Regions from separate parts of the Homo sapiens genome. Here region 2 is linked to region 1. The links come from fine-mapping of genetic effects on gene expression. A gene starts in region 1. The other region holds a variant in brackets. All regions are shown on one strand. Distances are from middle to middle.

Region 1 (2,764 bases):
AACCTCTGCCTCCCAGGTTCAAGTGATTCTCCTGCCTCAGCCTCCCAAGTAGCTGGGATTACAGGCGCCCACCACCATGCCCGGCTAAGTTTTGCATTTTTAGTAGAGATGGGGTTTCGCCATGTTGGACAGGCTGGTTTCCAACTCCTGACCTCAGGTAATTCATCCGCCTTGGCCTCCCAAAGTGTTGGGATTACAGGTGTGAGCCACCACGCCCAGCCCAGTTCCTCCTTCAGCCAAGGCTCTCTTGAGAATGTAAGGGCCAGGTGTGGTGGCTCACGCCTGTAATCCCAGCACTTTGGGAGGCCGATGCGGGTGGATCTCTCGAGCCCAGGAGACCAGCCCAGCCTGGGCAACATGGCAAGACCCCATCTCTTAAAAAAAAAAAAAAAAAAAAGAGGGAGTGGGCAAGAGAGAATGTATGTACAGCCATTGGGAAACAACCCGGAACAGGACTCAGGAGGTCCTTGCTCCTGTGGACTTTACAGGAGACAGACAGTAAAGGCACAAGATGCCTTCTTATGGTACTAAGAAGAAAATATGCCGCATGATATTGCAGATGGGGGGGCGGGGGCGTCACAGAACGTGACTTTTTTTTTTTTTTTTTGAGACAGAGTCTTGCTCTGTCGCCCAGACTGGAGTGCAGTGGTGCAGTCTCGCCTCACTGCCACCTCCGTCTCCTGGGTTCAAGTGATTCTCCTGCCTCAGCTTCCCAAGTAGCTGGAATTACAGGCGCCCACCACCACGCCAGGCTAATTTTTGTATTTTTAGTAGAGATGGGGTTTCACTATGTTGGCCAGGCTGGTCTCAAACTCCTGACCTCAGGTGATCCTCCCACCTGGGCCTCCCAAAGTGCTGGGATTAAAGGCGTGAGCCACTGCACCCGGCCCAGAAAGTTGACTTCTAAGCGTTTCCCCAAAGTGTCTATTAGGTATCTTTATGATTCAATAACCCATTCTTACAGAAATTAATTGTAAGCCTGGGAGCGGTGGCTCACGCCTGTTATCCCAGCGCTTTGGGAGGCTAAGGCGGGAGGATCGCTTGAGGCCAAGAGTTCGAGACCACCCTGGGCAACACAGCGAGACCTCCATACATCTCTAAGCAAAAAAAAAAAAAAATTCATTGTAAAAGCAATTTTCTTTTTGGTTACTGCCATAGGGATTTTGTAACTGAGTCACACCGGGCCGAGGCGGGACCTCATTGGCTGCGACCGACCACGTGCCGCAGTCGCCCCGGCGGTCGGGGCCCCGCCCCTCGGCTACCGTTCTGTGGATCAGGGGCCGAGCTCCGCCCCCGGCGCGCGGCTGAGACCCTCTCTATAAAAGGAGCCGGCGGAGGATGGCGAGCCTTTACGTCGGCGCGTAACGAGGGGGTGCGTGTGAGGTCATCGCGCGGGCGGGCGGGCGGGGTCTGGCGGTTTGAACGAGACGAAGACGGAACCGGAGCCGGTTGCGGGCAGTGGACGCGGTTCTGCCGAGAGCCGGTGAGCCGGCTAGCGGGCCCGGGGGGTGCGGCTGGGGGGGCGGCCGCGTGGGCCAAGGCCGGGCGTGCGCGGGCAGGCCCTACGGGCAGCGCCAGGGCCGTTCCACACGGCGGTGCTGTTCGAGCCGGGTGGGGGAAGGGCGGGGCCGTCACCCGGCGCGCGCGGGCTGGGCCTGGGGGCGCGCGCTGCGCTCTGCTCAGGGGGCGGGGTCTCGGGCCGGAAGTGGGCTGCTGCTACGCGGGGTGGGGGTTTCTGGGCCGCCGCTGAGGTGTGGTCCCTGCGCTGCAGCGACTGGAGGTCCCAGGGTGGTTGGGCCCTGGGAGGGTGTGGGCGAGGTGGGCCGTCCTGGGAGCTCTGGGGACGCACATTGTGGGAGGCCGTGTTGCCTGAGGGCCGAGAGATCGGGTGGTGGAGTCAGACCTGGGTTGGGTTCCGTGCGGTGTGACCTTGGACAGGTGCTTTAACCGCTGTGGATCTCAGCTTCCTCATCTGTAAAACGGGGACAGTAATACTACCCACATTAAACTCTTAGCGCGATGTATGGCAGAAAGTAAGCCAGCTCTTGGACTCCCTCCTTTCTTCAGTGTGTGTTTATTGAATGCCCACTAGGTGTTGGGCACCGTGCTAAACCCTGGCTGTTTTCCCGGGAACAAAGATTTGCTCTCCAGGAATCCACATTATGATGAGCAGGAGGACAGTATAACGGGATGGTATCAACAGTGCTAGTTCAGTCCCTACTTCACAGTTGCCCTCGGATGCTGCAGGGCAGAGCTTGACCTCTGCCCCATTTTGGGGATGAGGATCCTGGGGCCCATTGAGGGAGGTTATGCTAGGCCGGGCATCCGCTTCTCCGATGGCATGTCTCTAACAGTAGTAATGATAATAGCAGCTCTTTGTTAGTTGGGCACTTGTTTTGTGTCAAGCACTGTTAAGTGCTCCATGTGGCTTTGTGTCTTTTAATACTAACACTGTCTTTAAGAGAGATTCTCTTCTTCCTTTTTTTTTTTTTTTTGAGACAGAGTTTTATTCTGTTGCCCAGGCGTGCAGTGGCACCATCGCTCACTGCAACCTCCGCCTCCCGGGTTCAAGCGATTCTCGTGCCTCAGCCTCCCGAGTAGTCGGGATTACAGGCGCGCGCCACCAAGCCCGGCTAATTGTTGTATTTTTTAGTAGAGACGAGGTTTCGCCATGTTGGCCAGGCTGTTGTCGAACTCCTGACCTCAAGTGATCTGTCCGCCTCGGCCTCCAAAGTGTTGGGATTACAGGTGTGAGCCACCGCGC
Region 2 (2,764 bases), 31 kb after region 1:
TAAAAAGTTGCCCTGTAAAGTTATTTGGTGTCATTGACCAATTGCATCCCAGCTAAAAAGCAAGAGGCATCGTTGCCTGGATAATAGAGGATGTGTTTCAGCCCTGAGATGTTACAGTTGAAGAGCTTGGTTTTCATTGAGCATTTCTCTATTTTTCCAGTTATCCCCGAAATTTCTATGTATTATATTTTTTGGGGAAGTGAGGTGTGCCCAGTTTTTTAATCTAACAACTACTTTTGGGGACTTGCCCACATCTCTGGGATTTGAATGGGGATTGTATCCCATTTTACTGTCTTTTAGGTTTACATTTACCACGTTTCTCTTCTCTGCTCCCCTTGCCCACTGGGGACTCCTCTTTGGCTCCTTGAAGTTTGCTGCTTAGAGTTGGAAGTGCAGCAGGCAGGTGATCATGCTGCAAGTTCTTTCTGGACCTCTGGCAAAGGGAGTGGTCAGTGAAGGCCATCGTTACCTTGGGATCTGCCAGGCTGGGGTGTTTTCGGTATCTGCTGTTCACAGCTCTCCACTGTAATCCGAATACTTTGCCAGTGCACTAATCTCTTTGGAGATAAAATTCATTAGTGTGTTACTAAATGTTAATTTTCTTTTGCGGAAAATACAGTACCGTGTCTGAATTAATTATTAATATTTAAAATACTTCATTCCTTAACTCTCCCTCATTTGCTTTGCCCACAGCCTATTCAGTTCCTTTGTTTGGCAGGATTCTGCAAAATGTGTCTCACCCACTACTGAGATTGTTCAGCCCCTGATGTATTTGTATTGATTTGTTTCTGGTGGTAGCTTGTCCTGAAATGTGTGTAGAAAGCAAGTATTTTATGATAAAAATGTTGTGTAGTGCATGCTCTGTGTGGAATTCAGAGGAAAACCCAGATTCAGTGATTAACAATGCCAAAAAATGCAAGTAACTAGCCATTGTTCAAATGACAGTGGTGCTATTTCTCTTTTGTGGCCTTTTAGACTTTTGTTGCCCTAAAATTCCATTTTATTGGGAACCCATTTTCCACCTGGTCTTTCTTGACAGGGTTTTTTTCTACTTTAAACAGTTTCTAAATAAAATTCTGTATTTCAAGAGTATCATGTCTTCTGAAATTTGTCTTGCCCTGGGTATATGCTGTTAGGTTCAAGTGATGGGAAACCAGTGCTTCTTTCTTCAGTGAGGACTGATCTTTTCACATCCTTTACTGATTTTTCAGATGTGCTTATTTCTTCTTCTTCTTCTTTTTTTTTTTTTTTTTTTTGAGATGGAGTCTTGGTCTGTCGCCCAGGCTGGAGTGCAGTGGCATGATCTCGGCTCACTGCAACCTCTGCCTCCCAGGTTCAAACAGTTCTCTGCCTCAGCCTCCCAAGTAGCTGGGATTATAGGCACCCACCACCACGCCCGGCTAATTTTTGTGTATTTTTAGTAGAGATGGGGTTTCACCATCTTGGCCAGGCTGATCTTGAACTCCTGACCTCGTGGTCCACCCACCTCAGCCTCCCAAAGTGCTGGGATTACAGGCGTAAGCCACCGTGCTCGGTCAGATGTGCTTATTTCTAAGCTGACTTCTTTTTTCTTCATTCACATTATATTG[T/C]ACAGCCTCCTGCTTTTTAAAATTCTCGTTGCTGTAAGAGGTTTTTCCTCTCGGAAGTCCAAGGCCTGGCCTATCTGCTGTGAAGCCTTTTCAGGGCATTTCCTTCTGAGAAATATAGCAGGACAGTGCTTGGCAGATGACTGTGGGGAGATTTTTTTTTTTTTTTTTTCTGAAGGTGTGATTCTTTCTTCCTTTCTTTTTTGAGACAGGGTCTCCCTCTGTTGCCCAGTCTGGAGTGCAGTGGCATGATCTTGGCTCACTGCAGCCTTGCCCTCTTGGGTTCAAGCGATCCTCCCACCTCAGCCTCGTGAGTAGTGGGGACTACAGGCATGCACCACCATGCCCAGCTAAACTTTGTATTTTTTGTAGAGATGGGGTCCCCTTATGTTGCCCAGGCTTGTCTTGAACTCCTGGGCTCAAGTGATCCTCCCACCTTGACCTCCTAAAGTGCTGGGATTACAGGTGTGAGCCACTGCACCCAGCCCTGAAAGTATGTTTCAAAGTCAGTTAACATGATCTTAATCTATAAAATAATCTAAAATTGTCACCATTTTTTTCTCCCTTATAAAATTATATGCTATTAGAAATGAGTTCAAAAGGAGACTTGCTGCCATTTTCTGTCAGAAATAAAGTTAAATGGGCAGAGATAGTGTGTTGTAGGATATGTAGAGTCATGGTTATGGATGCTCTATAAACCCAACCTGATGATCTTGACAAGGGTTGCACCCATAGTTAATGGTATGATACCTCCCTTAAAGTGTTAAATACCTTCAGAAGGAATTTGACACCATATGTATTGGTCATCTACAAGAAGATACCTTCCAGGAGTGCAAGGAGTTTGTGAAGATACTGTTGGCTACTGTCAATTGAGAAGTTACCTTGGTAAAGAGAGAAGCCAAAACTGTGGGTATCTGACCAAGTGCATTGACCTGGCTCTTGAATTTGAAGCACATACAGTCTTTGCTGCTTGGTTTGCTTGGCAGGTTCTGTGTTTCATGAAGGATAGGTAAACAAATGGGTTCTCTGGCTCAATTTGGATCATTGTTCATGCTGATGATTCTCAAACTGATGGGCTTCAGAATCACATGGGGAACTTGTTTGACATAATGTATTTATAAAAATTCATCACCAGAGATTCTGAGTTTGGAGGTTGAAAACCTGCATTTTAATTTGGG

Evidence for each region. PIP is the estimated chance that this variant, and not a neighbour inherited with it, causes the effect.
Region 2: its variant is the best candidate, but not a certain one, in a credible set for the expression of MAPRE1 in whole blood (INTERVAL, PIP 0.52).

The regions. Positions count from the first base shown.
Region 1 is chr20:32,818,546-32,821,309 of GRCh38, forward strand. It overlaps MAPRE1 (microtubule associated protein RP/EB family member 1), which reads left to right and starts at 1,409. Exons shown (of 7, transcript NM_012325.3): 1 at 1,409-1,483. RefSeq lists a silencer at 1,126-1,715 and enhancers at 1,788-2,457, 2,458-2,764.
Region 2 is chr20:32,849,314-32,852,077 of GRCh38, forward strand. It overlaps MAPRE1 (microtubule associated protein RP/EB family member 1), which reads left to right. Exons shown (of 7, transcript NM_012325.3): 7 at 1-1,092. Among named protein-coding and RNA genes, the nearest start is that of EFCAB8, 8.2 kb to the right of the region's middle. The variant T/C (reference allele first, on the strand shown) is at 1,590.